2 separate regions of the Homo sapiens genome follow, and region 2 is linked to region 1. The links come from fine-mapping of genetic effects on gene expression. A gene starts in region 1. The other region holds a variant in brackets. All regions are shown on one strand. Distances are from middle to middle. Region 1 holds the start of TAF5L (TATA-box binding protein associated factor 5 like). Region 2 overlaps GALNT2 (polypeptide N-acetylgalactosaminyltransferase 2).

What was found.
Region 2: its variant is fine-mapped to the expression of TAF5L in neutrophils (BLUEPRINT, PIP 0.95).

Annotation. Positions count from the first base shown.
Region 1 is chr1:229,617,174-229,629,889 of GRCh38, forward strand. TAF5L (TATA-box binding protein associated factor 5 like) reads right to left here and starts at 8,949. Exons shown (of 5, transcript NM_014409.4): 1 at 8,712-8,949. URB2 (URB2 ribosome biogenesis homolog) reads left to right here and starts at 9,074. Exons shown (of 10, transcript NM_014777.4): 1 at 9,074-9,183; 2 at 10,448-10,586. The coding sequence starts at 10,461. RefSeq lists enhancers at 6,463-7,013, 7,858-7,907, 9,568-9,647 and silencers at 8,398-8,587, 8,678-9,377.
Region 2 is chr1:230,206,165-230,222,415 of GRCh38, forward strand. The region is part of intron 3 of GALNT2 (polypeptide N-acetylgalactosaminyltransferase 2); the gene reads left to right. Among named protein-coding and RNA genes, the nearest start is that of GALNT2, 150 kb to the left of the region's middle. The variant A/G (reference allele first, on the strand shown) is at 8,265.

The sequences.
Region 1 (12,716 bases):
TCTATCAGTGATCCTCCAACCTGGCTATACATAAGAATCCCATGAGTGTGTGGATATGTATATAAATAATTTCAGCCCTGCAGATTCTGGTTGTGTTATATTTAGAGTAAAAAAGTTAAATGCACACGGAGGCTGTGACAGTACTGTCCTTTCCCGTGTGGCCCAAAGTCAAGACGAGTCAATCCAACCAGTGCCTCTTCCTATCACTTGCTACAGCTGCTTTTCATCTAACTTCAAGATCTCCTACTCTGCGGGCTTTCCCAAAGCAGCCCAATTCCCTACTCTAGCTGAGACTGAAATCTTTCCGGCTTCCACACTGCCGATCTTTTGCTGACTTGGGAATGCATGCAAATATTGATGCACATCCGTGAGCATTCCAGGCAGATGGGCCTCGATCTCTTAGATCACCTCTGACAGGAAAAAACTCTGCATGTGAAAGACATGTGAATGACTGATCTGGAGAACAGGCTCTGCAATGACACAGTGTCCTCAAGGTGCGACAATATACCTATGTGTCTGAGGAGGAAGGGAAAAGATGTGAAGTTAGGAAAGAGTAAACAGAACGGAGTAAGAATGAATGATAGTCAACACTGACCATATTTAAGATTGCTAGAAACTAGTCTGTAATACTGATTCTAACAAATATGCTTAAATTAGCTGCCCCAAATAGCAATTTCTCTGAGTCCAAACTACCATTTATGATAAGGGCGCTTCCCTGAGGGTGGGTGGTGAATCAACTGTATGGCCATGGATCTTAAGGGCAGGAATTCTGGCAATGACTCTCTTGCATAACCACGCTAAACTCAAATACTAGAGACACGACCCAATCAACTCAGCTGGGTTTTATTCCAATGTACATATATTTCAAGTGACATGGATAATTAATGAACCTGAGATAAATCGGTCCCCTCCACCCAGACTGATTTCCAGAGTACTAATATCCAAAAAGGGACAAGTGAAGAAAAAAAACTCTCCTTAAACTAGACCTAAGTCTCTGGAGAGACTCATACATGAGACGAACAGTGCAGTTTCGTTACCTGCCTAGCTTTTCCTATAATTATAAAATCTTTCAAACTGAAATTGGATTTAAATATAATTATACTCTTTGTTAACATTTCAGAATTTCTCATCATTTTCAATTTATATAAAATACTTAACTTTCAGAGGTAAAAACAGATGTCAAATACTCTGCTCTTCATATCACATTATTGATATTTCTGGAAATCAAAAATTTCTGGAGGATTTTGACACAATGTATATCTATTCTCATGTATCAACAGTTGCCAGATTGGTATTTCTGGAAATCAAAAATTTCTGGAGGATTTTGACACAATGTATATCTATTCTCATGTATCAACAGTTGCCAGATACTTCAACCAAGTTGCTATATAAAATCCCACATGATCATTTCAATGTAACAACTCTGCAGGGAAAACCACAGCCACACTTAACATTCAACTACAGAAACATGGGGAGGTGGAGATACATGGAACCCAGGCATCCTCTTAAGATGCTGTCAGTGTGGAACTCTAGTCTGGTCAATCCCTTCAGTGGTTACACGCTGCATCCTATCCCTCCACCCCCACCCCCGTTAGGCTCTAATGTACACGGTCGGTAGAGGAGGGCTGGGAGGCACCCTCATCCACCATATCACAGGTTAAAGTACTACACAGTTCCACGAAATGCCAAAAGAGTACTACCTGGCTCCCCCATCCCTCCCCCTGCCCCAATAAGGTGGCAGTTTTGAGTAGGGGTGAGTTCAAGATAAATTCAGGCAAACTCACTACACAATCCTCAAATCAGCTCTTCAACTGAGACTTCTGACTGTTGGCTTTTGAGTAATTGTATCTTTTTTCCAATGGCAAATTTATGTTTATAACAGAAGAAAAAAATTATTTTTTTGCATTTTTTTGTAAAGTGTCTACTAGGTAACTCAAGTTATTAGTTCTCTTCACTCACAGCAACTAAATGGTTGTAACATCAAAAGATCAGTCTAAGTAGGACCTAAAGCCCTAGCTTTGCATTAATCATCATGATAAAGTGTATTCAATAAGCTTTGTGAAAATATAAATCACAACTGAAAAATAAATGAGCCATACTACTTTCAGTTTCAGTCATACCTCATATAATTTAAAAATTATGATAGCCTTTCATATTCAATCTTTGCTCAGACTGACATAAATACACTTGAACTAGAAGCTGTGTTTTTTCCCATGGTGTCCTAAGAAATAAAATGGCACATGGATAAGGCCGTAGCTGGGCTCAGGACGCAGTGAAGAATGTGGCGTTTTGGTGGGGATGGCAGCAGTGGTAGAAAGTAGGTGGAAATCACGAAATCCAGCAAACAGATGTCATGAGAAGTAGATTTTCTCCAACATCAGCTGGGACCTCCATGATGTTCCAGAAGTCTTGTTTCATCAACTACTTACCCTACAGCCTTCCACCTACGCTATTCTAAACCTTCACCAGTCTCCTCACCCAGCCAGCTGACCCTGCTTCTGACCTCAGTGGGCTACTGAGACTTGGGATTCCTTAACTTTTTGATCTAACCAGTCACTTTCCAGCACCACCCTTCACGATCTCTCAGCTGGATGTGATGCTGCTGAACTCACCTCCTACTTGAAACTCTCTTGGTCCCTCCCACTGCAAGCCTCTCTTGTGGCTCTGCCCTCCCATTACTGTCTGCCACTGCTTCTTCACATTCCCGGCTTCACCACACCACCATGCAAGACTTACAGTCAGACCACCTTCCTCAACTCAGTCAATTAACAGACATTTCCACCTGCAATACCTCTTCCTTCTCCCGGTTTTCTTAGCCGGCTTAATGGTGCCACTATCCACCATTAAAGCAAAAACAAAACAAAAGAAAACAAAACAACCAAAAAGCCAGTCATGATAAAATTCTGTTCTCTCTCTCCCTTACTTCAAAGAGGCCACCAACTCCTATTCTAAATGGGAATTCTCTCTCAACTTAAAAAAAAAAAATTGCGGCTAGTGCAACTCAACCATTTCTGCTACCCCATCTTGACTGTTTGCTATTTGACAGCACAAATTGCTTCTCGCTCTCTTTAGAGAAGTGGTCTGGCTATATTGCCCAGGCTGGTCTCCATCCTCTGGGCTCATGATCCTCCCAGCTCAGCCTCCCAGGTAGCTAGGATTACAGGTGTATGCCACTATGCCCGACTCTACAAATCACTTCTCAACTGGACTATTCCAATATTCTTCCACCTTTAGGCCCTCCTCATATGGCCCTTTGAAAAGCAGCCAAAGTACATGACAAATCTAATGATGTTACAACCAAGCCTAAATCACCCCAACCCTCATGCAGGTTGTCCCCTCTTGCCATCACTCTTCCTCAGTTCCCCTAAACAGATGGAGAGTTCCCTGAGGACAGGCCTTATCTTTGAAACTCATCATAAAAATAACGTGAGTGCTATCTAGCTTCTTGGAATTCTTGAGAGTTTATTTTAAGCTCGTGATCTTTTTGAATTTCTACTTTAATACTGTTTTACAGCACAGAAAAACTGCTTTTCTATACAAAATCTTATTAACATGGAAGAGTGTGGCACAATCTACAGAATGGCTCTTTACATTACTTACTATGCTTGACTACATAAAGAAAACTTTCACAAATGCTCTATTTGCAAACACCACTGCAGACAGAAATAGGATGTCCTGTTCTCAAAATAAGGGATAAGACGTTTTCCCATGCTTATCACTGTTCCTGAAACTGAATTCAAATGCAGTACATGAGGATTTGAAGACGCTTCATTAAAACATTTATGTGTGTGTGTGTGTGTGTGTGTGTGTCTCAAAGTGGATGGAATGATCTTCAATTTTTCATTCCAGAGCAGTACTGTCCAAGAGGACTTTTGGCAAACGACGGAGGTGTTGTAAGTCTGCACTGTTCACAACAGTAGTCACTGGCCACACAGGGCAATTGGGCAATGAAAATATGACTAGTGCAACTAAGGAACTGAATTGTTTTAACTAATTTTAATTTAAGTAGTCATAAGTGGCCAATGATTACTGTATTGGACAACAGAGTTCTACAGAATGACATTACCTGGTGAAACTAATGCATCAGCATCTTGGCTTAAAAAAGTTAATTCACAAAGTTTTGCATAACACTTCTGCTTACTAATGACAAAGTCTCCAAAAGTTAGTATTTTGTTTTAAAAACACAGCTACCTTTTATTATTGCCAAACATTGTGAAGTTATTAACATACCCATCCACCTTGATACACCTTACTGGGAGGATATCTTCTTTGACTACTAAACAATTATAAATGGAAGTATTTTATAGTGTTTTCTAAACACTGACAATATACAACACTCTTCAAATCTTCTGTAAATTAAAAAATAGGAAGGAAAAAGACAATTTGCTTCAGTGGAGAAACAGCAGCTAATTTCTTTCTGTAAAATGTCCAACTAAAAGGTAAGCCCAAACCTATGACTACCTTACCATACCAATAAGAAAATTAAAAAGAAAACATTTTAGTCAACTTTAATTTAAAAAAAGAGAAACTCTGAGGGTTACAGATGAAAATCAAATGTCTAACTATAATCTCTATTAATTTACACATATCTAAAATATATAAGGCAATATATTAATTCACTAAAGAAATTCACTCCAACTGTTCATGAATATCTTAAACACCAGTGTCTGTGATGAATTAAGCCACTATGAATCATCAAATTCCATTTCCAGAGCACTTTACCTTTCCCATCTACTAAATCAGTTACAATAAAGCACGTCTTAAATCCATATACTCCTGCTGGAAATCTCAACCCAAGCCATCAATGCCTGTTCGGGTGAGCAGAACTTCTTTTCATTCATCATCATCTATCTATCTATCTATCTATCTATCTATCTATCTATCTATCTATCTATACAGATAGATATATATAGATATACAGATATGTGTGTGTATATATATTATACATACATTATGTTTTGCATTTAACACTTGCACTTTGTGATACCCCCCACCCCCATCAGGAAGAATGACTTAATGACTGAATCTTTCCTATTTTTTTGTTTCACTTATTTGGTAAGATTGAATAAATATCCCAAACTAGCACCAGCTGAGGTTGCTCCAGTTGTTCCAGCCCATTATGTCCTTCCCAAACAGCACCTTGTTGTTCAAAATAGACTGAGAAAGAGTGCCCTGTAACAGGGGAGCCCCAAACATGAGACTTTTGGGGGAAAACCTTGCTTGTGATCAAGCATATACAATACATACTTGAAGATAATTTTTAAGAGGGAAGGCTGCCTGGTTTCTTCATGCTTTCTGTAAGTGCTGTCTAAGCTTTGAGATTTGGAATAAAATGCCCAACTCTACTACCATTTTCCTTTTGAAATCACGGGCAGATAGGGAACTGCCAAGACTTTATCTTAATAAAAAATAAAAGTAAAATAAAATAAAAATAAAAGTCTTTCTTTTTAATTTTGAAATAAGGTCTTGCTCTGTCACCGAGGCTGGAGTGCAGTGGCACAATCACAGCTCACTGCAGCCTTGACTGAGCTCAAAGATCTTCCTGAGTCAGCCTCCTCAGCAGCTGGGGCTACAGGCATGCCCACCATCACACCTGGTTAGTTAAAAAAAAAATTTTTTTTTGTAGAGACGGAGTCTCACTACGCTGCCCAGGTTGATCTCAAACTCCTGTGCTCAAGTGATCCTCCGAAAGTGCTGGGATTATCGGCATGAGCCACCACACCTGGCCCTACTTTAAACATAATACTATACTACTATAGGCACAATCTTTCCAAGGAGCTAATCTGATGTTATCTCTGCTAAGCTTAAAAACATTTACTGCCGCCGGGCACGGTGGCTCGGGCCTGTAATCTCAGCACTTTGGGAGGCTGAGGTGGGTGGATCACCCGAGGTCAGGAGTTCAAGACCAGCCTGGTCAACATGGTGAAATCCCATCTCCACTAATACAAAAATTAGCCAGGCATGGTGGTGCATGCCTGTAGTCCCAGGTACTGGGGAGGCTGAGGCAGGAGAATCGCTTGAACCCGGAAGGCGGAGGTTGCAGTGAGCCAAGATCACGCCATTGCACTCCAGCCTGGGCAACAAGAGTGGAACTCCGTCTCCAAAAACAAAACAAAACAAAACAAAATACTTTCTACTGCCTCCACTAGTGTGAAGGATAGAAAAATTGAGTGTCTACTGTGTCATTTCCAGGTTGCTCTAATCTGCCTGTTTACCTCACTGGACCAATCCTTGGTTCTTCTTACTCTACTGGTGGGTCCCACTCCACCTTCTCCCCTCAGGGGCCCTCCAGTAGTTGGAGGCACTGCCACACTGGCACTACAACCTGGTTTGGCTAAATCCCACCCGCACTTCGCAGCTCAGCTTAGCCATGTCTTCCTCCCAAAAGCTTCCTTGATCACAATCCCTTCCACACACGAACCCAGGAACAAATCTGTCACAGAACTTACCCTATTCTTGTCTGTTTCATACACTACCACTACGAATACTTAACACTGAGCATACTCGACGCTAAGACACTTAAAGCATTTAAAATTAAGTGCTTTACATAGACTGCCTTCTTTAAGCTCACAACAAACCTATGAGGTAGGTAACGTTCTTCAGATGGGAAAGCTGAGGCGCAAAGAAGTTACACAGTGCCAGGATGGGAACTCAGGACACCTGGCTGAAGGGTCTGAGCTCTCACCTTCTACAGCATCTTGCTGCTCAAAGGATTCTACATGTGACCAGGGGCTTCCTGAGGGAGCACAACAATGAATGCTTACTAGAAGCTTGCTGAGAGAATGATCAGAACACTTACTACCTGAGAAGCCACCAGTCACATACAAGACAGGCTGGAAACGTGACTTCTAGTACTGTCCACTGAGTAATACTGGTTTAACAGATGACCCCTAGAGCTCCCTTCCAGCAAAACAAATTAGCAGAAACAAAACCCCCTTTCTTTCCCCAGAGATGTCCTTCACAGGTGCTAATATATTGCTTGCAAAACCAAAAACCAGTTACTGAGTAGTTAAGTGAGGCCTTTACCTAGTTTCACAGTGACAGAAGCTCACATAAGCCTCACATTTACAGGCAGGAGCAACAAAACTATTCCAAGATACACTAATTTAATTTGTTGTTGATGACAAAGAAAAATACTCAAAACAAGCCCACCTTTTAATTTTCTAGCTTAGCGCTGATTTTTAAGGCAGGAAGAATTTACGATTCATTAAAAAATTAGCATATATTCCATTTAACGCAAAAACTTAGGACTACAGGGAACCTAGAAGGTATTTTGCCAAAAAGGAAACGATAATAGCTAACATTTAGCTATTTTCATACACATCATTCTTTTTCTGGGTACCTTTAAAAAGGTCGTTTTTTGGGAGGCTGAGGCGGGAGGACTGCTTGAGCCCAGGCCTGGGCAACATAGAGGCACCCTGTCTCTTAAAGATAAAAAAAAATCCACGTTTAAGTTATTCCTTATCATCGCATTTTATAGATGAGGAAACTACAGTTCAGAGAGGTTATGCAGATGGCTACATGGTTTCCATCCTAGGTCTACTGTCACCAAGCTCTATCCACTACATTATGCTGTTCCAAAGTTTAAAGATGTGGCCAGATGCATTTAACCTATTAAGCACAAAACTCCCTTTCCTACTCCCCCTTCCAAGTAGAGCTGTGACCAGGAACTGGGGCACAGCCTCCGTGTCCTCCCCTACATCCCCAACTCAGGTGTTGGCACACTTGAATCGCCTGATATAAGACACGCTCCGCACTTAATGTTCCTCTCAGCACAGCTCCCAACTGCTTGTTAGCAGGAGTCACCATTCCGAGATTCCAATCTGCAAGGTCAGTTTAGGTACAGTAATTTAAGACAGACACTGCATGGGACTGGCACTTACCTTCTGATCCCAGAACCACAAAGACTGCGAGATCCGCATTACAACGACTTTCACAACTGATGGGAGAACTGCATGTAGCGTTCCTGCACTCCACTTCCGCTAAGTCTAAAATGACACCACTGTTTCTAACCATCCACTCACTTCGGACCAACGCCTTATCGAATACATTTTCAAAAGCCTGGCAGCTTCGCGAGCTGGAGGTGGTGAACCCGTCCCACACCATGGGCGCACCAACCTTACCTTGCTGTCATGAGGCAACGAGCCCCGAGAGACACCCTTGCAGGTAAGCACTCTCCTGCAGCAGCTAGTCTAACTCTGGCTCCCCCGTGTCACACGCGGAGATCGACTCCACACCCACCCACGCACGATCACCATGTGCAAAGTTGAATCCCGACTTCGCCGCAAAGACATTTCCTTTTCCCCTACATGCAAAGGAGCTGTGGAGCCGTGCTCCCTGCTTGGCTGTCGGGCACTGGGATACCTTCCCCGCGGGCGCCCGCCACCTCCTCCCCGAGCCCGGCATCCAACCCGCAGGACCCACCCCTGCGCAGGAACGCGACGCCAGTCCAGGTGTAGCCGCCGACTGCAGGCCACGCCGCCGGCCGCAGCCCGGGACTCGGGAGGCCGAGGGCGGAGGCGCGGCCGTCGCGCCCGCGCAGAGCCGCCCGCCGCCCCCCAGCCCCGCCTCCCGCGCCCCACCCCCACCGCCCGCCGGCGGGAGCCAAGGCGCGCCCCGCCGAGGCCCCACCGCCCCGGCCCCCGCCCGCCCGCGCGCGCGCGCGCCTCGCGACCCTCCCGGCCCTCCCCGCCCGTGCTCCCGGCACTCACTGAACATCCCAGGCGGCTCCGGCTCCCCCCGCCGCCGCCGCCTCCGGGATCGGGTTGCTTCCGCCTCCGTCGTCTCTGCCGCAGGGTCTCACTCCGACGGCCGGCTCAGCTGGGCCCCCGCGCCCCGCGCCCCGCCGCCCCCGCCGCCGCTCTGGGCGGCCGCTCCATGACTGACTGACACGGAGCGGGCCGCGGGCTGGGCCGCTCGGGCCTCCAACGCGCAACCGTCTCCGCCAATGGGCGAGGCGCCTCGGCGCTCGGCTGGCGACGCCTGGCGTGCGTGCAGCCCCTCCCCGCTGCGCCGCCGGCGTCCGGCGGAAGGAGCGCGGGTACCGGTCCCACGTGGTGGGGACGCGGGACCCGTACAGCGGCCTCCGCCGCACCGGGACAGCAGCCGCCGCCGCTGCCGCCGTCCTCCCCTGTCTACCCGGAGCTGTCTCGAGCTGAGCCCCCTACCGGGCCGGATCCCGAGGTGAGTCCCCCACCTGCGGTCAGCCCCTGCGGGCAGCCAGGTCCCGAGGTGAGTCCCCCCACCCGGGGCTGGTCCAGAGGAGATCCCCCTACCTAAGGCCGGGCCCAGATGGGGGGCCCCCCAACCCTGCCCAGTTCCGGTGCCGCCAGCAGACTCTGGGCTGGAGCGGCTTCGGCACGCTCCATTCGCGAAGGCGAACTCCCTCCTGGCTCCTAGCTGCTCTCCCCTGGTTCTTGTTGCTTGGTCTCTTTCTGCTGGGCAGGGAGTGCTGGCAGGGCTGTGCTGTCCGCCCTGGACTTCGCATTGCCCGGTAAGGGCGGTTGGAGGCCCGGAGAGCCGAACTCTGGCGGAGCCGGGGAGAGCATCTCGGTTGTCTTTGTAGCCAGTTCAGCAAACACCTGTTATGCACTTTGTAGCTGTCGCGATGGCGGTTCTATGGTATTGAACTTAGAAAGTCAGGCATCGTTGAATTCGTTTTGGACATTTTGACAAAATAGGAAAACTGACAGCACTTGACGTTCTTGTTCTCTGCAGTAGAGTGAAGGATAACTTAATTTCTAAAATGAAAACGTCTTAACGTTCCTTTTTACTATAACTTTTAGGAAACTCAAAGCCAAGTTTACCCAGTTTAATAGTAACTGTAGGTGTTTGGTATGTTTGCTACCCCCGAGATTTCATGGTTTTTTGTTTTCTATTTTTAGTCTTTTCCTTGTGCAAGTATCTCTTGTAGAGTCTTTTTTGAAGTGTATGTGCGTTGTAAATTTATACACGACTGAATAAAAGTGTTAGTGGAAGGTTACTGTTGCAGCTGAAATAACTGTATTCCTTTGGGGTTTTCTTTTTCACTTGGAGACATATTACTTTCTCCGGATATTGCTTATGTATCTTTTCCTCTTTCAATTTGAAACCATGTATGAATGACTCTTTCCACAAGTAATGTAATCACTGATTTTGGCCTTGTTGAATTCCTGAACACTCACCTTTGTGGAAGTGATGTTTGATCATAGCTGGAATACATATAGTCCATCTTCTGTGTGTGCAGTCCATCTTTTGCTTGCTTTTGTCTGAATTTCCCCCAGAAAATTCTGGAGTCAAGCATCTTGTATGTAGATTTACCCCGACAAATCTGTTGATTCATTAAAAACTTTTAAAAGAATACATATTAGGTAAACAAGATACAGTACTGCAATACTGTTGGTTTTCTGGTGCCTGCTCAGTCTGACATTGTTATAGTATTTTTTTTCCCATTGTTTTTAAATTTTAGATAAAGCCTAGCCATGGCTGCTGTTTATTCTGGCATTTCCCTTAAGCTTAAAAGCAAGACAACTTCCTGGGAAGATAAACTAAAACTAGCTCACTTTGCTTGGATTTCTCACCAGTGCTTTCTTCCAAATAAAGAACAAGTAAGTTTAATGTGAAACTCATATTTTTACAGTCTGTCAAGATAATTATCACTTTTATAATTTGGATATTGACAATTGGTTAAAATAAAAAAATAGAGAAAAAGTTGGGGAGGGAACTTTGTTGGAAGTTAAATGTAATGTCAATGAAAAAAGTAATGAGTCAGGTACTTCATTAATACATTTTTTTTTTCTGTTAAAAAACCTCATTTAGGTCGGGGACAGTGGCTCATGCCTGTCATCTCTATTTTGGGAGGCCAAAGCGGGGGATCGCTTGAGGCCAGGAGTTCTAGACCAGACTGGACAACATAATGAGATCCCATCTCTTAAAAAAATTATATATATTATATATGTATATATATGTATATATACATATATAATATATATATAATATATATAGTATATGTATAGTATATATGTATATAATATATATAATATATATGTATATATATTATACATATACATATTATATATGTATATATATTATACATATACATATTATATATGTATATAAATTAGTCAGACATGGTGGCATGTGCCTGTAGTCCTTACTACTTGGGAGGCTGAGGTGGGAGGATCCCTTGAGCCCAGGAGTTTGAGGCTGCAATGAGCTATGATTGTGCCACTTTCACTCCCAGCCTGGGCGATAGAGCAAGACCTTGTCTCTTTAAAATAAATGAACCCACCGAATTTAGCATTTCTTTTGTTTGGAGACATTATATTACAAACTAAGTATATGCATTAATGAACACATTGGGAATTAAGTTACAGAAGTTAGGTTCTGAAAGTCCATTGATAGCTGCATTTGCTTATAAATCCAAAGTGATGTTTCTTAAACTGTTGGTTGGTGGTGCTTTGTTAAAAGTCTTCCGCATTGGATAAATTGAAGGTTGGGAAGTAGAGAAATGTTAGTATTTGTATAAAGCCATTTTAGAAATGGGCTAGGTACCAAGAAAGGCATTGCATTTTGTTAGAATTTCTCAGGCTTTTTAGGCTAAAAATTAGTTGGCATGATAAACACCAGGATGACAAGCTCATGAAATTGGATTAATACACATCCAGTTGCTGTTGTCAAGGAAGACAGCACAAAATGCTTCCAAGATGGATGACATATGTAAAGCGATGATGACGTGTGGTGTGGAGAGCAGCGGTCATATCCAGTGCTTTCTACACCTGGCTGCACTTGGGAGTCATCTTGGCAGCGTGGCCATCACCTGGCAGGTGCTGCCCAGGGTGAAACAAAGGGGAGGCTCTAGCAGCCAATTGGATCAAGGTTTCTGCTGTTGTTATACTGAGAGATTTTATTCCTTCTGGCATCTGTCACTATTCATACTGTTATTGACAGTTCTGGGATTGTGAGCTTTCTTCAATGTTTTGTGAAGAGGAAACATGACACGTAATGGAACCTGTATAGATAGGCACAGTCCTCCTTTTCATAAAGCACTTGTATGATTTCATATCAACTGTGTCTGTCTCCCAGATGATGTATAAATATTAGTAGTATTAGAGGTTAAGCTGTAGGTAATGTGGGGGAAGCCAGGACACAAATCCCAGACTTTCAACTCTTAACTTACTTTTTTGCTTCGTGTGTCTGATACATTCTGTGGTCATTCTGAGCAGTCTTTGTATTTCTAACTTTTAGAACTTGGTACATGCATATCTCAGAGATACTGCAGGTTTGGTTCCACGTCACTGAAATAGATCACAATATTGTGAGTCACAGAAATTTTTTGGTTTCCTAGTGCATATAAAATTTATGTTTATACTATACTGTGGTTTGTTAAGAATGCAATAGCATTATGCCTAAAAAAAGTACATATCTTAATTTTAAAAAATTGCCCAAAAATGCTAGTGGTTATTGGTTATCTGAGCCTTTAGGGAGTCATCATGCTGGAGGGTCTTGCCTTAATGTTGATGATCTGGGTAGTGATTGCTGAAGGTTAGGGTGACTGGCAACTTCTTAAAATAAGACAACAGTGAAGTTTGCTGCATTGATGGAGCTTTTCCTTTCATGAAAGACACAGCATTTTACCCACAGTAGAACTTCTTTCTAAATTGGACTTCTCAAAACCTGCCACTGCTTTATCAACTAAGTTTAAGTTCTATTCTCAATCCTTTGTTGTCATTTCAGCA
Region 2 (16,251 bases), 590 kb after region 1:
GAGCTGAGAGAAGAATGGTGTTCTTTCTCATGGCTCATCAGCATGTGGGCTGGCTTTCTCATCTGCCTCCCTTGCAAGTCCCTACAAAGTCCCCAAAACTATATGTACGTATATTTTTTTTCAAAGTTTTTGAAATATGAGTTTGTCCAAACAGATGTTTGAATATTCATCCCACAGTGTGGGATGCATTTTAGGTGGGTTTAATTTTAGTTCCAGCCAGTGTGTCATGTTCATTTGCATGTGTTAAAGGGGCAGCTGGGATGCCTTCCACATTTGTTGGATTTGGGCTAAATTAAAGTCTATCCATAGTCAATTGGATGCCTAGAGCTGAGCCGATTTAATGTCTCAAAGTGTAAGCTCTAGAATTACCATTCTTGTTGAATGTCAGGTTAAGAAGATTGGGTTACCTCTTTGAATTTCTCTCCCAATATATCTAATGGGGAGCTATTTCAGAATTTGACCTTTCTGTATAAAATGTTTTTTGTCTCTGCAGTATCTACCTTCGTGTTGATCAATAGAAATTCTTGCACAGTAGAATTCAGTCTTTAGTTTTGATAAATCTGAAAGCAGTACAGGTGGAGGGTAATTAAGAATGAGGTGTTTGGAGTCCTACAGACCTGGGTTGAAAATCTCAGACCCTCCAGTTCTTAATTCTGTGACCTTTATCATCTATAAGATGATAGAACATTACTCCATCTGTAACCTATGAAGATTAAGCAACATGTTTACATGGGCTGGTTGCCCCTCCCCTGAGCCACCTCAGTGAGGTATCCCTTGACCATCTTCCCTAGGAGTTCAACCCCCTGACCCCCACTCCAAAACTTCCCGTCCCCCTTTCCTGCTTGATTTTTCTCCACAGTTCCTCTCACCACCCACACACTGTGTATTTTACTTATTTTTTTCTTCCGAATAGTGAGTTATTGTATCCAGGGTTGTTATTCAGACACCTCCGGGCACTCAGTAAATTCAATAAGTATTTGCTGAGTGAGTGAATTGTTTAGCAGAGTGCCTGGCATATATTGAGTGCCCAATAAATCATGCAAGATATGAAGAATCATAAAAGAATACAGGAGAAGGAAAGGGGGATATTTAAGTATAAAGGTCCTGTGAACTCAAGATGGGCCACACACAAATAACCTCATTGTGTTTGTGTTCTCCCAGGACTGGAAAACTGCGATTATAATCCACCCCTTATTACCCTGAAGGATAGATACAAGGAATAAGGCTTCAGAGCCTCCCAAACAAACAGACAAACAAAAAACTCTGGGCTATGCTTTATTTACCTTTCTAGATGTATATATTGTACCAAGAAGAAATATTTACATGGAATCAGGAAGCACACAAAAGCCAGCTGTGAGTGAAATACTAAATACTATGTATAAGATATATTAGGTCCTCTTAGATATTAGAAAGATGATAGCCCATCTTATTTTTTTTTTCTTTTCTTTCTGCAAGGTCTCACTCTGTCACCCAGGCTGCAGTGGTACAATTTTGGCTCACTGTAGCCTTTCCCTCTTGGGCTCAAGTGATTCTCCTGCCCCAGCCTCCTGAGTAGCTGGGACCGTGGGTGCGCATCATGACGCTAGGCTAAGTTTTTGTAGAGATGGGGTCTTACTGTGTTGCCCAGGCTGGTCTCAAACTCCTGGCCTCAAGCAATTCTCCCGCCTTGGCCTCCCAAAATGCTGAGATAGTAAGTGTGAGCCACGGCATTCAGCCCCATCCTAGTTTTGAAAGCACCATTTCTTTTCTTTTTATTTTTAAATTGATATATCATAGTTGTTATCTATCTTGGCGGTACATGTGAGATTTTGATACCTGTCTACAATGTGTAATGATCAAGTCAGGGTAATTGGGATATCCCTCACCTCTAACAGTGATCTCTGCATGGTTTCTCAATTTAAAAAAATAATCTTCTTGCTTGGAAATTTCAAATAAATTATCAAGACTTAAAAGCAAATTAAACCAATGGGAATTCTGAAGTTTCTTTTTTGTAGTAAGTGTTTGTTTTTTCTCTCTCTCTCTGCGTTGGGAAGCTGTTCTTACTGTCCAGGCAGAAGGTAATGGAAAGTAGCATTGGTGGTGGTGAGAAGTGGTCTGGTGGGCTATATTCTGAAGGTGGGGCCAACAGGATGTGCTAATGGACTGGAGGGGGGTATGGCTTGGAAGAGGGTGCCAAGGATTGTGGCTGGCACAAGGGAAGACCTGCAGTCTCCTCAGCTGAGATATAGGGAGGCTGTGAGTGGAGCAGGTGTAGGGAAATGTGGACATGTTAATGCTGCTCAGTGTAGGTGGACCTGTTTTGTAGGTGGTGGGATATGTGTCTGGTGTTCAGGAGGAAGGTCTTAGCGGGAATGTAAATTTGGAAATGTTCAGCGTATGGATGGTATTTAAAACCGTGAGGCTGGGTGTTAAGCCCAAGGGAATGGATGCAGACAGAAGAGGCCCAAGGCCTGAGCCCTGGACGATTCCAACATTGAGATCTTTAGCTGTGAATCTGGAGCCAACGGCTGACACTTGAGGACAGTCTAACACTGTAGATTGCGTACTATTTTAGGCTGTGTTCCCGTGATCAGGAGATATAATTTTATGAAGCTATGCGACTGTGAAGCTAAAAGGAGCCTCAGGGGAGTGTCTAATTCAGTGGTTCTCAGCCTTGAGCTGTGCCACCCACCCAGAGCGAAGATGGAAATGTGGGGGTGGAGGATCGGGGGTTGTTAGAATACCCGTGGGGTGCTCCTGGCATTTACCACCAGGGCCCAATGAAGCCACATATTTCGTATAGCCCAGGTTGGTCTGGCACATTGAAGAGACTGTCCTACCCAAATGGCCACAGGGCTTCCTGTCAAGCCCTCATTTACTTATTTCCCCCCATTAGTTAAAAAAAAAAAAGCATGTTGAAGTTGTTTTTTTGTTTTTTCTGTTATTGCTCTGAGTCATACCTGCCTTCTCCATCAGCCAGCCCTCAAAAGCAGGTTGAAAGCCATCACCTCCTGAGCCTTGTAGCCCATACAGGCCCCACAGGAAGTCTCTGTCCCTCTGACTAGCAGCCGCATGGAAGTATGAGTGTGTTGTGGACTGAATTGTGCCCCCTCAAGTTTCTTACGTTGAAGTCCCAAACCCCAGAGTGACTGTATTTGGAGACAGGTCCTTTGTGGAGGTGATTAAGGTTAGAGGAGGTCCTAAAGGGTGGCGCCCTGATCCACCTGTCCTACAGGACAGGTGTCCTTATAGGAGGAGGAAGATGGAAAGAGAGATTTTTTTCCCTACCATGTGAGCACACAGCAGAACAGGGCCACCTGCAAGCCAGGAAGAGGCCTCACCAGGAACCAGATCTGCTGGTACCTTGAGCTGAGCTTCCAGCCTCCAGAGCTGTGAGAAATACAAATCTATTGTTGGGCCAGGTGCAGTGGCTCATGCCTGTAATCCCAGCACTTTGGGAGGCCAAGGCGGGTGAATCGCTTGAGTCCAGGAGTTTGAGACCAGCCTGGGCAACATAGCGAAACCCCATCTCTACAAGAAAATACAAAAATTAGCTGGGCATAGTGGCTCACACTTGTGGTCCCAGCTACAAGGGAGGCTGAAGTGGGAGGATGGCTTGAGCCTAGGAGGCTGAGCCTGCACTGCACTTCAGCCTGGGTGGCAGAGCAAGACCTTGTCTCAAAAAAAAAAAAAAAGTCTATTGTTTAAGGTCCCGTCTGTGGTATTGTCAGCCCAGGCTGACTAATACAGAGTGGAAACGATACAGCATGACCGGCAGGCCAGTGGGAGGACCGGCCAGCCAGATCCTGAAATGACTTGGGTAACACTTGCCTTCATTTTCTCTTAAGCTCTTCTGAAGCCTCTCCCCAGTGTTGTCTGGTTCAGAGGTTCCTGGGGTAACATCCCCTTGATGCCTTCTTTAGAGTGTGCTGCGCTTAGGAAGTGAGTGTCGTCAGGCTGGAGCGTTTCCGGGATCCAAACTCCTTTCCAGGAGGGTTTTGATTGTTTTTGCCTGGAAATGCATCTGATAAGAAAATAAAGTAGAGGAACCCAGGAAGTTTATGAAATCTCTTTCTCTCTACTAGGGAAAACTTGGGACAGTTTACATTGAAATTATTTACAGATGTAAAATGAAATCAACCTTTAGGGGGGAAACCATTTTCTTTGTTTTCTTCTTTCCCCTGTCAACTAGACACCGTTCCTTTTGACTTGTTTCATTAAATCCTTTAAAAACAAGAACTGCTTGTTAAAGAAACAGGTTTCCTTTGGGTTTCAAACGTTTAGTTATTAGAAAGCTTTTCTCTGCCTTGCCACCACTACATTTAAAATGTGGGGTTTTGAAACATTTTTGTGTCTCACGCTGAAATACCACTGCCTGAACCATTTCCCTACAAAGGAACCTTCTTTGAGAGGAGTGTGTCCAAGTTGTACATCTAATCGGTTTATCTTTAAGTCAAGAATATGTTGTTTTTACTCTAGTTACAGATTATAGTGGCTCACCCTTTGTTTAGAAGAATTACTAAAGAACTCTATTTTGACCACTTTTGAAATGTCTGCCTTTAACACAGCCAAAACATAGGTCAAAGCTCTTAAGGGTGTATTCTTTTATTTATTTTTTAGGGGCATTTAAAGAGGGCAGACATTGAAGGCCTGGGTTGTGCTGTTTACTCTCACTGGAATGTCAGTATTGATATCAGTTGTTTTAAGAGTGGCTAATCAGGATTAAGGATTGTGGGGAAAGATAAAATCCAAACTTCCCATTCTTATTCTGGAAGAACAAACATTGCTGAAGCCAAGTGAAGGTTTTCAGCATTAAGTCAGCCAGCTTGGAGGGAGGCTTTGGCTAAGGCAACTATTAGGGGACTCAGAGTTTTCTTTTTAGGGGGGCAGAAGATCTAGGGAAATCCACACAGCTCCCCAGTGGGAGTGTGATTGGAGACCCAGGCAGGGCTGGAGCTTTGTCCTTATGTTGTACTTCTCGGCAGCTCGCGGCGTCTCATAAACATGCGCCGCTGGCCTCCTGAGATTCTTGTGACGGAACCGCTGCTCCATGGTAGAGCTGGCCCGAGCACCCACTCCTCCCGCATCAATTTGCTGCCCAACTCCAACTCTGTATGCCGCACCACAGGGTCCTGGTGGAGGAGATGGGAGGCCACACGGGGTGTCACAGGTGGGGACAGGCGCTTCTCTAGGCTTAGCTGTTCTGGCTTTGTTGGCATTTGTGGCCGTGGGGCAGGTGGAGTTTGGGTGTGGTGTAACAGTGAATGTTTAAAAGCTTGTTCAATAATCACAGTAACAAAGCAGTTCATTGAACATTTTTTGGTATCAAGGCCCATGCTCAGCCTTTTGTGTGCATTAATTTTATTTAAGGCTGGGCACAGTGGCTCACACCTGTAATTTCAGCTCTTTGAGAGGCTGAAGCAGGAGGATAGCTTGAGACCAACCTGGGCAATATAGTGAGACCCCATCTTAAAAAACAATTACTCTAGTGTGGTGGTGTGCACCTGTACTCCCAGCCGCTTGGGAGGCTGAAAGGGGAGGGTCACTCGAGCCCAGAAGTTTGTGGTTGCAGTGAGCTATGATCATGCTATTGCACTCTAGCCTGGGCAACAGAGTGAGACTCTATCTCTAAAAATAAAAAATTTTATTTACTCTGCATCACACTCCTGTAAAGTGGGTAGGGATGCTATACTTCTGATGATGTCGTATACCAGTTCCCAGAAGGCTCGGAACTCAGACCCCACTTCCAGAAAGTAGAAGAGTTGCACACAGGAGTCAGGTTCGGCAGGATGTGAGCTCAGTTTGCAGAGCAGAGGTTGTTTTTCTCATTTTTCACATTGTCGGTTGGAACATGTTTGGGGAGAGGCAGGCAGCTAGGATATCCCGGGGCCTCATAAGGCACCACCTTGTATCTAGAGAGCCTTAGTCCCCAGGGATTTTACAGTTACTAAGCCATGAAGTTTTATCACTTGTCTATGAGGCAGACGAGAAAGGTGAGCCACTTGCCTGAGTTCTAACAGGGCTCACTGGTGGAGGAATTGGAGCACTCTGTATCCTGGGCTCAGGGTTCTGTCTAACAGTTGTGGCTCCCTTACTGTCCGCTCTTCAGAGGGTCTTTCATACTCCCGGCTTTTAGGCATGAGTCTTGGCATGAGGCCTGAATGCACCTAAAAAATGGAAGAGATGGGTGTTGGTAACTTGCAGCCAAACAACCTCCTAAGGGAAGCTGGCCACACGTTGATGGGATGCTGAGAAATGGAGAAGAAATGGGGTTGTTTTTCTTTTTCCAGCTTCAGATTCTCGAAGAAAATGTATTGGAAGAGTGCACTCTATTTCTGTTCCCTTGGAACATTGCTGATGCCGTTCAGGAAGTGAGACTGCTTGTGTGTTCAGTCAGTGTGACATCTCTGCCTGTCAGTGTGACATCTCTGCCTGCTGTTGGAAGGGTGCTGGCAGGCTCAGCGAGATATACGAGATGTGGGGAGTGGGAAGTGGCCAGCAATAATGGCTCCTTGCTTAACGGGTCCCCCACCAACTCATCCCAGGTTGTAACTTGCATCTGATATGCACAGTTCACACCAAAGCCATGTCATTATTCATCAGCGTGCTTGTTTATGTTTTGTTTTTATTTTTTGTGTCTTTATAAAACCAACTTCTGGTTTCAACCACAGACCGTTCTTTTTCTTCCCTTGATATGTTTCCTCTTTTTTTTTGGTCTATTTCAGGCCTTCTCTCTGTCTGAATTAAAGAATGCATTGAGACTGGTATAAGTAGACTGTATTGATTTGACTGTAGAGATTTCGTTTGTGTCGATGTTGGCATCTCTGAAGGGCCCGTTTCAAGTCTCCTTTTCAAAGATCATTAGCAAACGTATTCTCAAAGCTTAACCCCTGAGTGGCTGCCCACATGTGTGGCTCAGTTTCCCCATCTGTAACTCTGGGTTATGGTTTGGGCAAAAGCACAATGATGCTAAATGAGTTGTGTGATTTGCTTTCTTTACTCTTTAGTCTTTTCTTTCTGCCATCATCCTGGGAATGCAGTGATGACCATGAGGATCGTCTTTGTTGTCAAGAAACTGTAGTCTTCCCGGAGAGGCAGACAAGGAAACAGGCAATTACGTAGCCTAGTAAGGATAACCTAACCACCTCTAGACCATTTACAACAGAGCTCTGTTCTTTCTATTTTAGACCTGTTTGTGAGTTTCTGTTATTTTCTTAGTAGACTGGCCCTTTTATCATTATGAAATGCACTTCTTGTCAGTGGTAATGCTTCTTGTTTTACAATATCAGTAGAGCTGCACCATCTTTCTTTGGTTTCATGTTTTTGCATGGTATACATTTTCCCATGCTTTCACTTTCAAACTTTTTATGTCCTTATATTTAAAGTGTATCTTCTGTAAGTAGCCTATAGTTGGATTTTGGACTTTCATCTGCTGTGACAATCTTTATCTTTTATATGGTGTATTTAGTTCTTTTACATTTAATGTAAGTACTAGTTTATTGGGGTTTAACACCAACATCTCACTGGTTGTGTTCTCTTAGTTCCACCTGCTTTGTGTTTCTTTTTCCCTTGCATCCTCCTACGTTTTTTCTTCTCTGTTGGTTTGCTAAATTCTTGACTAGTAAGTCCACATGTAGAGCCTAATGTAAATGAATAATTTTATTACTTCTTAGACAATGCACAGACCTTCTAATAATTTACCTTCCACTTACCTTCAGCCCTTTGTGCTCTTGTTGTCATTTAGCTTAATTCTTTCTTTATAAACTCTATAGGATATCTTTTATTGTTTTATGCAGTAAATATCCTTTTGATTTATTCACATATTTATATTCCCATTGCTCCTCATTTCTTATATTTCTATTTTTCTACCTAAGACCATATTCCTTCTGTATTTCATTAGTATTTCTATTAGTCCCAGTATGTTGGCAATGAATTGTATCCTTTTGTTTGTCTGAAAACATCTTAACTTTACTTTTTTTTTTTTTTGAGACGGAGTCTCGCTCATGTTGCCCAGGCTGGAGTGCAGTGGTGTGATCTAAGCTCACTGCAACCTCCGCCTCCCCAGTTCAAGTGATTCTCCTGCCTCAGCTTCCCAAGTAACTGGGATTACAGGCACCCACCACCATACCTGGCCAATTTTGTATTTTTAGTAGAGACTAGGCTTCACCATGTTGGCCAGGCCGGTCTTGAACTCCTGACCTCAAGCCATCTGCCCACCCCAGCCTCCCAAAGTGCTGGGATTACAGGTGTGAGCCACCACGCCCGGCTTACTTTTGTTTTTGAAG[A/G]GTCTTTTCACTGACTGTGAAATTCTGGGTTGACAGTGACTGTCAGCACCTTTACGTTGTCTTTCAGTTGTCTTCTGTTTTTTGTTGTTTCTGGCGAAATGTCTACCGTTAGTCTTGTTCTTTTTGAAGACATTTGACTTTTCCTTCCAGCTGCCTTTTCAGATATTTCTTTTTTTCAGCAATTTTGCCATAATATGCCTAGCAGTTGTTTTCCTTGTGCTGAACCTGTTTGGGATTTGTGGAATTTCCTGACTCTTGAGCTTCATGCCTTGTCAGTTTTGCCATGCTGCAGTTCTGTCTCCTCTTCCTCTGAGACCCTAATTTCATCTTTGTTAGATAATTCTGCGTTTCCTCTGTCCCTCATAAGCTCTTTTCTGTACTTTTTATTCTTTTTGATTCCCTGTGTCTCAGTCTGGATATATTTCTGTTGGCCTGCTTCCTGTTCATTGATCCTTTCCTCTGCTCTGTCTAGTCTGCTTTTAAATCCACTGCTGAATTCTTCATTTCAGTGATTGTGTTTTGTTGTGTATGAATAAATACCGAGATATTTCAGGGCTCTCACTGACTTTTTCCTCCAAAGAGGATTTAGTTTTGTTCTCTGGCAGGCAGTTAAAATAGGGCAGGTCACCTTAATCAAGTCTGGAATTGAGCTGGTATAAAGCTGGGTTTCGGTCTTTTGTGAGAGAGCTGGTGAGTTTCCAGTTCTCTTTTGCCACTAGGAAGTAGCCCTGTGGGATTCGACCTGGAAGTCTGGGATATGTATCAGAGCCCAGTTTCCTCAGCAAGCCCTGAAGTCCATTTCTGGCCTCCACAGCTCCACAGCACCTCCAGAAGCTTTCACTTGGCTCTGCACCTACAAGACCATCGCTTCTGCTCGGCTCAGTCGGCCGTTTGGCTCTATGCCGTTTGAGGGGAAGAGGATCAGAGAATGTTGGCCTTCCTCTCTAGGTGCTTCTCCTTTCTGGAAACCTGACCTCACACCTGGCTGCTTTGCTAGCTCTCTAGTGCCTTCAAATAGATTCTTCAGTGTATTTCATCCCGAATTTCTGGTTGCTTTTAGTGAGTAGGTTGGTCTACAGCAAGGAACTTTACTGTCACTGGAAGCAGGAAAAACACCTGAGTGTTTTATTTGGAATTCAAATCCACTCTGAATTTGGCAGTTTATAAATTTTGCCCTGAGCAATAATGTCTATCTCGAAGGAGAGTAAATGGAAATACAGGCTTGAAGTTGGGATGTGTTGCTTTTATTAATAGCTCAACCAGCTGTTAGCTCCCAGACTGAGGTTAAAATAATCTCTGTAAACCCTGGGTTTCTTATCTGTAAAACAATAATCATGCTTGCCTGGCCTGTCTTACAGCATTTTTATTAGGCTCAGATGTACACATAAACTACATACATTAATTACACAAATTCAGGACATTAATATAGTGACTAGTGGCTTGTATATATATCAGCTTTAAGTAAAGAATGAACTGTTATTTTGTTACACTTTGCTCTCAAAATGTGTGTGACATGGCTGGCAGACTTTCAGCTTCCAGTATGTGAATGCCTCTGTCACACTGAGATGGTATTGGATTGTTTTATCATAGAACCAAAAACAGTTGTGGAAATAGCTGTGAAGCAGTGATCCTACCTATTTCAGAAAGAAATTAGACCAGGAAAAATGGAGTCAACAGAGTTTTGCTTGATAAATGAGATCAATCTTCGAGTCCTAACAAACTGTCCTACTTCAACTATCCATTTAAAACCCATCACTTTGCCCCCCGTCGTGGAACCATGAAACTGAAAGAACAACTTTCTTTTTCAGTGGAAGGGTTTTGTATATTTTAGGAAACAGTCAAAATACTGTAAAATTTATTTTAACTTTTTTTGTCATTTAGGCTACGTATTTCACTTGAATATGGTTTCGGAGATTACTTGTGATGTTTCTAATGAACTTAAAAGAAGCAGCATTGTCAGTTTATGGTACATTCATTATTAAGTCAAAACACCGATCTGTTCACTGGTGTAACTGACAATTCACATATACTTTGGAGTTGTCTCACCCCGTTGCCCAAGCTGGAGTACAGAGATGTGATCATAGCTCACCGTAACAAACTCCTGGGCTCAAGCCATCCCCCTGAGTAGCTAAGACTACAGGTGTGCGCCACTGTACTCAGCTGATTTAAAAAATTGTTTAGTAGAGATGGGGTGTTGCTATGTTGCCCACACTGGCCTCAAACCCCTGACCTCAAGTGATCCTCTTGCCTTTACCTCCCAAAGTGCTGGGTTTACAGGCATGAGCCACCATGCCTGGCCTGTACTCTGGAGTTGTTAAATGTTAATGGTAGAACCTATGAGGGCCCATAATCTCCACTGCCATCTGTAAAATTTAAAGTTCAGACTTTTATAGTAACGACTATCTTAACTATATTGAATAAGCCATGATTTTCTTCATCTGACAATAATGTGAGAAAATCCACACCTCTTTGGAAATTCAAGTTATTTAAAAAAGGAAATATCCCAATAGGAATATTGTACTTGGATTTAAAGTTTTATATTCACTGAAGATTTATTTTTATTCTTGGATTTATGCATTTATTTAGCAAAGATTTGAGTGCTAACTACATGACAGGTGTTTTTCTGGTCACTGGGGAAACAGCTGTGAACAAAACATTAAAAAAAAACTCTGCCGTCATAGAGCTCACATTAAGAGGATGGGGGAGAAAACAATAAAATAAATCATTAATTATGTGGTTTTTAAAAAGCATGTTAAATACAGAAGAGAAAAAAAAAGCGGTGGAGGTTAGGAGTGTGAAAGAGTCAAGGGTTTTAGTACTAAACAGGTGATCAGGGAAGATCTCACTGACAGGAAGGTGTTTAGGCAAAGACCTGAGGGAAGGGACGAGGGAGTGTGCGTTTGAATAACTGGGAAGAGAGTTCTCATCAGGGGAGGTGGCAAGGGCAAAGGCCCCAAAGAGGTAGTGTGCCAGGCCTATCTAAAGGACAGCAGGAAGCCAGAGTCGCTAGGCAGGTGGCCATGAGGAAGAGTAGAAAGAGGTGAGGTCTGAGAGGAGTCAAGGCACCAAGCCCTAGGAGCCTGGAGGCGCATGGTAAGGGCATTGGCTTTGTCTCTGTCATAGTCCGTTTTGTGCTGCTATAACAAAATACCTGAGACTGGGTAACTTACAAAGAACAGAAGTTTACTTCTTATAGTATGGAGGTTGGGAAGTCCAAGATCTTTAAGCTGGCAGGGCTCACATTGTCTGGTGAGAATCTGGTTTCTGCTTTCAAGATGGCGCCAAGAACAGTGGATCTTCCAGAGGGGACAAATGCTGTATCCTCACATGGCAGAAGGCAGAAAGGCAAAAAAGGGACAAACTCCCTTCATTAAGCCCTTTTAAAGGGTCTTCATTCCTTTCACAAAGGAAAAGCCCTCATTATCTAATCACCTCTTAAAGGTTCTGTCACCACTACATTGGCTGTTAAGTTGCAACACCTGAATTTTGGAAGAGACTCATTCAAACTGTAGCAGCCATTGAGTGAGATGGAAGCCATTGTAGGTTTGGGAGCAGAGGAACAGCATGACCTGAATTAGGCCTCTAAAGGGTCAGTTTTTTAAAAGGTTGCTGTGATAAGACCAGGTTTACTGGGGGTGGGGTGGGAAATACAAGGCCAGAAGCAGAGAAACCTGTTGCCGTGATCCAGCCAAGATGACAGTGGCTAAGAACAGGGGACTAACAATGGAGGTGGTGAGAGGTGGTTGGATTCTGGATGCCTTTGGAAGGTAGAGATGACAAGATATGCTGAATCGGATGTGGAATGTGAAGAAGAGAGGGCTGAAGGATGCCACTGAGTTTCTTAACCAAGCAACTTGAAGAATGGACTTGTCCTTTGCTGAGCAGGGAGCAGTACAACCTCCTGGTTAAGGTGTGGATGCTGGCACCAGGTCTCCCATGTTGGAATCCCAGTTATCCCTTTAGCAGCTGCACGATCTTGGCGTGTCAGTTAGCTCCTTCGTGATATAAGTTAAGGGTGATGATAATACTCATCTTATGGGCTGCCGTGTGAGGACTAAATGGGTTAACACCTGTAAGTGACTTAGCACAGTGGCTGGCACATAGTCAGTACTAAACGAATACTAGCTGCTATTCAGGAAGCATTGCTGGAAAGATTAGGAGGGAAGTTTTCATCCAAGTGGAACTGTCCAGTAGGTGGATGAAGATATACAAAAATCTGGAATTCAGGAGGCAAGCCTGGGGAGAAGTTACACAGTTGAGATTGTCAATGTTTATGGATGGTTTTAAAATCACTTTGTTATCTATCCCTGAATGTGTATTTTTAAATGTGGAGGTATTTCTGGTTACCAAAATAGGCTTAAAGCAGGAGTCCCCAACCCCTAAGCCGTGGACCAGTGGTGACACATGGCCTGTTAGGAACCAGGCCACGCAGCAGGACGTGAGCAGTGGATGAGCAAACATTACCGCCTGAGCTCCGCCTCCTGTCAGATCAGCATGGGCATTAGATTCTCATAGGAGCACGAACCCTATTGTGAACTGCACATGCAAGGGATCTGGGTTGTGTGCTCCTTATTAGAATCTAATGCCTGATGATCTGAGGTGGAACAGTTTCATCCCAAACCATCTCCCCTCTCCACCATCTGTAGAAAAATTGTCTTCCATGAAACTGTTCCTTGGTGCCAAAAAGGTTGGGGACCGCTGGCTTAAGGGACACTGGGTTTGTTATCTGTTGCCTCTTCTTTATGATGATGATTGAATTTCCTCTGGCATCTTTGCCATGGCCCTTTAAACCAAATCTTTTTTATTCTTGGTAATTCTTTAAGTGCAAAGGCCAAGGTACTTGTTCTTGATATTCACATATAAGTGTCACCTGTTGAAGTTGGAAAATTCCCCGTATGTTGCTCTGGGCTAGAATAAAGCAATGCCCTGGTTGCCTAATTCTGCTTGGCCAACGTGTACTGGCGCGTGGGACCATGAGCTGCCCAAGTGGCCTTGGTGGCTTTCTGTTCTGGCATCCCTCTCAAATTAACCCCTTCCTCTCATTGCCACTCTTGGTCCAGTCCCTTGTCCTCCCTTCTGAGTCACTGGACCTGCCTACTCAGATCTCTCAGTACCTCTCCCAGGCTTGTATTCTGCATGCCCCTCCCACACAAGAACTAACCTATGGTGAGGACACCTGGATCCCCCTCCTGGGCCCTGCATAGATGGCCTGCAGTAGCCGGTCCTGCCTCCGCCACCCACTTACCTTTCTTGAGACTTCTGACGTGGATGCATTCCAGATGTGGGGGCATTCTTTGCAAAGTGCTTGTGGCTGTCTTCATTCATGGTATTCTCCACTGCCCTTCTAAACCTTTCTAAATGGGTGTGTCCCTTAAAACACAATTTGCCTAGATTCTTCCAAAGAACTGCTTCTGACTGGCCCCCTGCCATGGGATTGCTGCCCTTGCTTGAGACCTTGCCACCCCCAACCAGAGCCTCTGTGCCTGGGCTTTCTTGTTTTGTAGCTGTGCATGATTTCTCCAGGTATTTCGTAAGTTGCTTTGGGACAGAGACTATCTGTAATTAGACAGTTCTCTAATTCCTCACTTAAATTCTTAGGGAATTCAGATTGTTAAAAAAATATCTAGAGAGCTATTAATGACATATACACAATTTGTGAAATAATGTTTTTAATCTTGAGACAGTACCTTGTACTCAAACACACTAATGTTTTTGCAGCAGAACATGAATATGCATACCAAGTGGGATAAATCAGGAGAACAGTCATCAGGTCAGGTTTTACTGCCACATAATTCAGATCATGGCAGGCTTTGCCACCAAATATGATACAGATTTTTTTCCAAGGTGTTTTTGTTTTTTTTTTTAATGTTGGAATCAAAGATTAGGAATTATGGACCCTCGCTAGGTAAATAAAGAAGAATACCATTGATTCTGCTGCCACATGATAAACAGCCCACTCCGGAGGCACCAGAGCCTACTTTTGGGTTGCTATGCTGTAGATGAGGGGAGCAGGGCATAAAGGGAGTTGAAACTCCCGGGATGGTCTTCAGCTTGATATCCTGCAGGGCCTCTGGTGCACAGGTTGCCCTTGAGATTGGTTAGCACCCAGCGTAGCTCCTGGTAGGCTTTGCCACTCCCTCACTGTCACCACGTGCTGGGTGGGCTGAACTAGATCTCTCTCGGTAGCTGCTTTTATGGAATCACTCAGTTAACCCAGTTGACTGTAGAATCCTGTCTGCAAAGAGGCATCCCCTGGAGGCCAGCGCATGGTGGTGCCATCAAACGAAGGTACTTTTGTTAGGGTTGGTCCATTCTTGGGCTTAATCAGACCCGCCCTAAGGAAATCATGGTATGATGTGACGGTGATGCTAATGATCTGCCTTCTATTGTTGGCAAACCTTATCTTGGCCAAATATTAGCTAAAATCTCTGAATTGGTCTGTGTTTCACCTAGATACTAATGGTCTACGCAGTGGGCTGTTAGCAAGCTTGTATCATGAACTCCCCAAGTTCTCCTTTCTTTAAATACACCGAATTACTCAAAACTGGTTTTTTCTTTAAAGAAAAAGCTTTTTAAAAGTAGATACGTGTTTGTTGCACACAGGAAGAAAAGTCTGAAAGCTTCACATTGTCTCTGGTGAACATCCTTCCTAATTTGTCTCATACCCTCTGATGTTCGATGTATGTCATTTTCTATAAATACAATGACAGTAAAATGACACTGTATTTGCTGTTTGCCTGCCTACTTTTTTTTCATTCAGTAATACATAGGAAATATTTTCTAGGACTGTTAAATATATAACTTTCCCTTATAAAAGCTGTATATATCCCATTTTATGTTTATTTAGCTAGCTCTCTGGTAATGGACTGCTAGATTCTTTTCCTTTTTAATGCTAACGTTGGGATGAATATTTTCGAATAACCTCCTTGCTTACTCATTTAAAAGGAGATGCTATTTGAGATGACAGTGTGTTATTTGGTTCTGAAAATGTACCAGAATTTACTCAATATATTGCTGAGTTTGGCTACTGCTTTATTTTAGGTTTTGAATGAAGATTCATAGCTGAAAGTGTCTGTGGCCAGCCAGCCTGCCTGCCTTCTTTTCCTCCTCTCTCCCGTCTTCCTTCCTTCATCTAGCTTTGGCTTCAAGATTATGTTAACTTTGTAAAATGAATTTAGAACAAATTCCTAAATTTCTTTAGATGCTTCAGAAAAACTGATTTGTAAAGGAGTTATTTGTTTCTTGGAGCTCACCTTTCAAAGTCATCTAAACTTAGAGCTATTTTTATTTTCATTACAGTAATCCTTTGATAACCTTTTAAAATTCTTCCATGAATATTGACATGTGTTCAGTTTTTCTATGCTTTACTTGAATTAATTTGATTTATATCTTCCCAGAAGAATAAATTTCCCTTGGATTTTCAAATTTATTGGCATAGTGTTATATGTATATGCACTTAAATCTTTATTAATTATAAACTTTTCATTTTTTTCTTCTTTAAAAATGCCAGTGATGTGTCTCTGGTTTCTCCTCCTTACTTCTGTCTTCTTTTCATCCTTGACATCAAGTGCTGGGATTTTATATACATTTCACTGCTTTTCTCTTTTTTTTTTTTTGAGACAGAGTCTTGCTCTGTCACCCAGGCTGGAGTGCAGTGGTGCGATCTCAGCTCACTGCAAGCTCTGCCTGCCGGGTTCACGCCATTCTCCTGTCTCAGCCTCCTGAGTAGCTGGGACTACAGGCGTCCACCACCACGCCCGGCTAATTTTTTGTATTTTTAGTAGAGACGGGGTTTCACCATGTTAGCCAGAATGGTCTCGATCTCCTGACCTCGTGATCCGCCCGCCTCGGCCTCCCTGCTTTTCTCTTTAATGCATTCATGTCTGCCTGTTGCCTCTGCTTTCCTCTGCACTCCCCCTGCCCCATGAGAGTTGAATGTTGAATGTTTACTTTATGTCTACTTAATTGGTTTCTGAGTGCAGCTTTG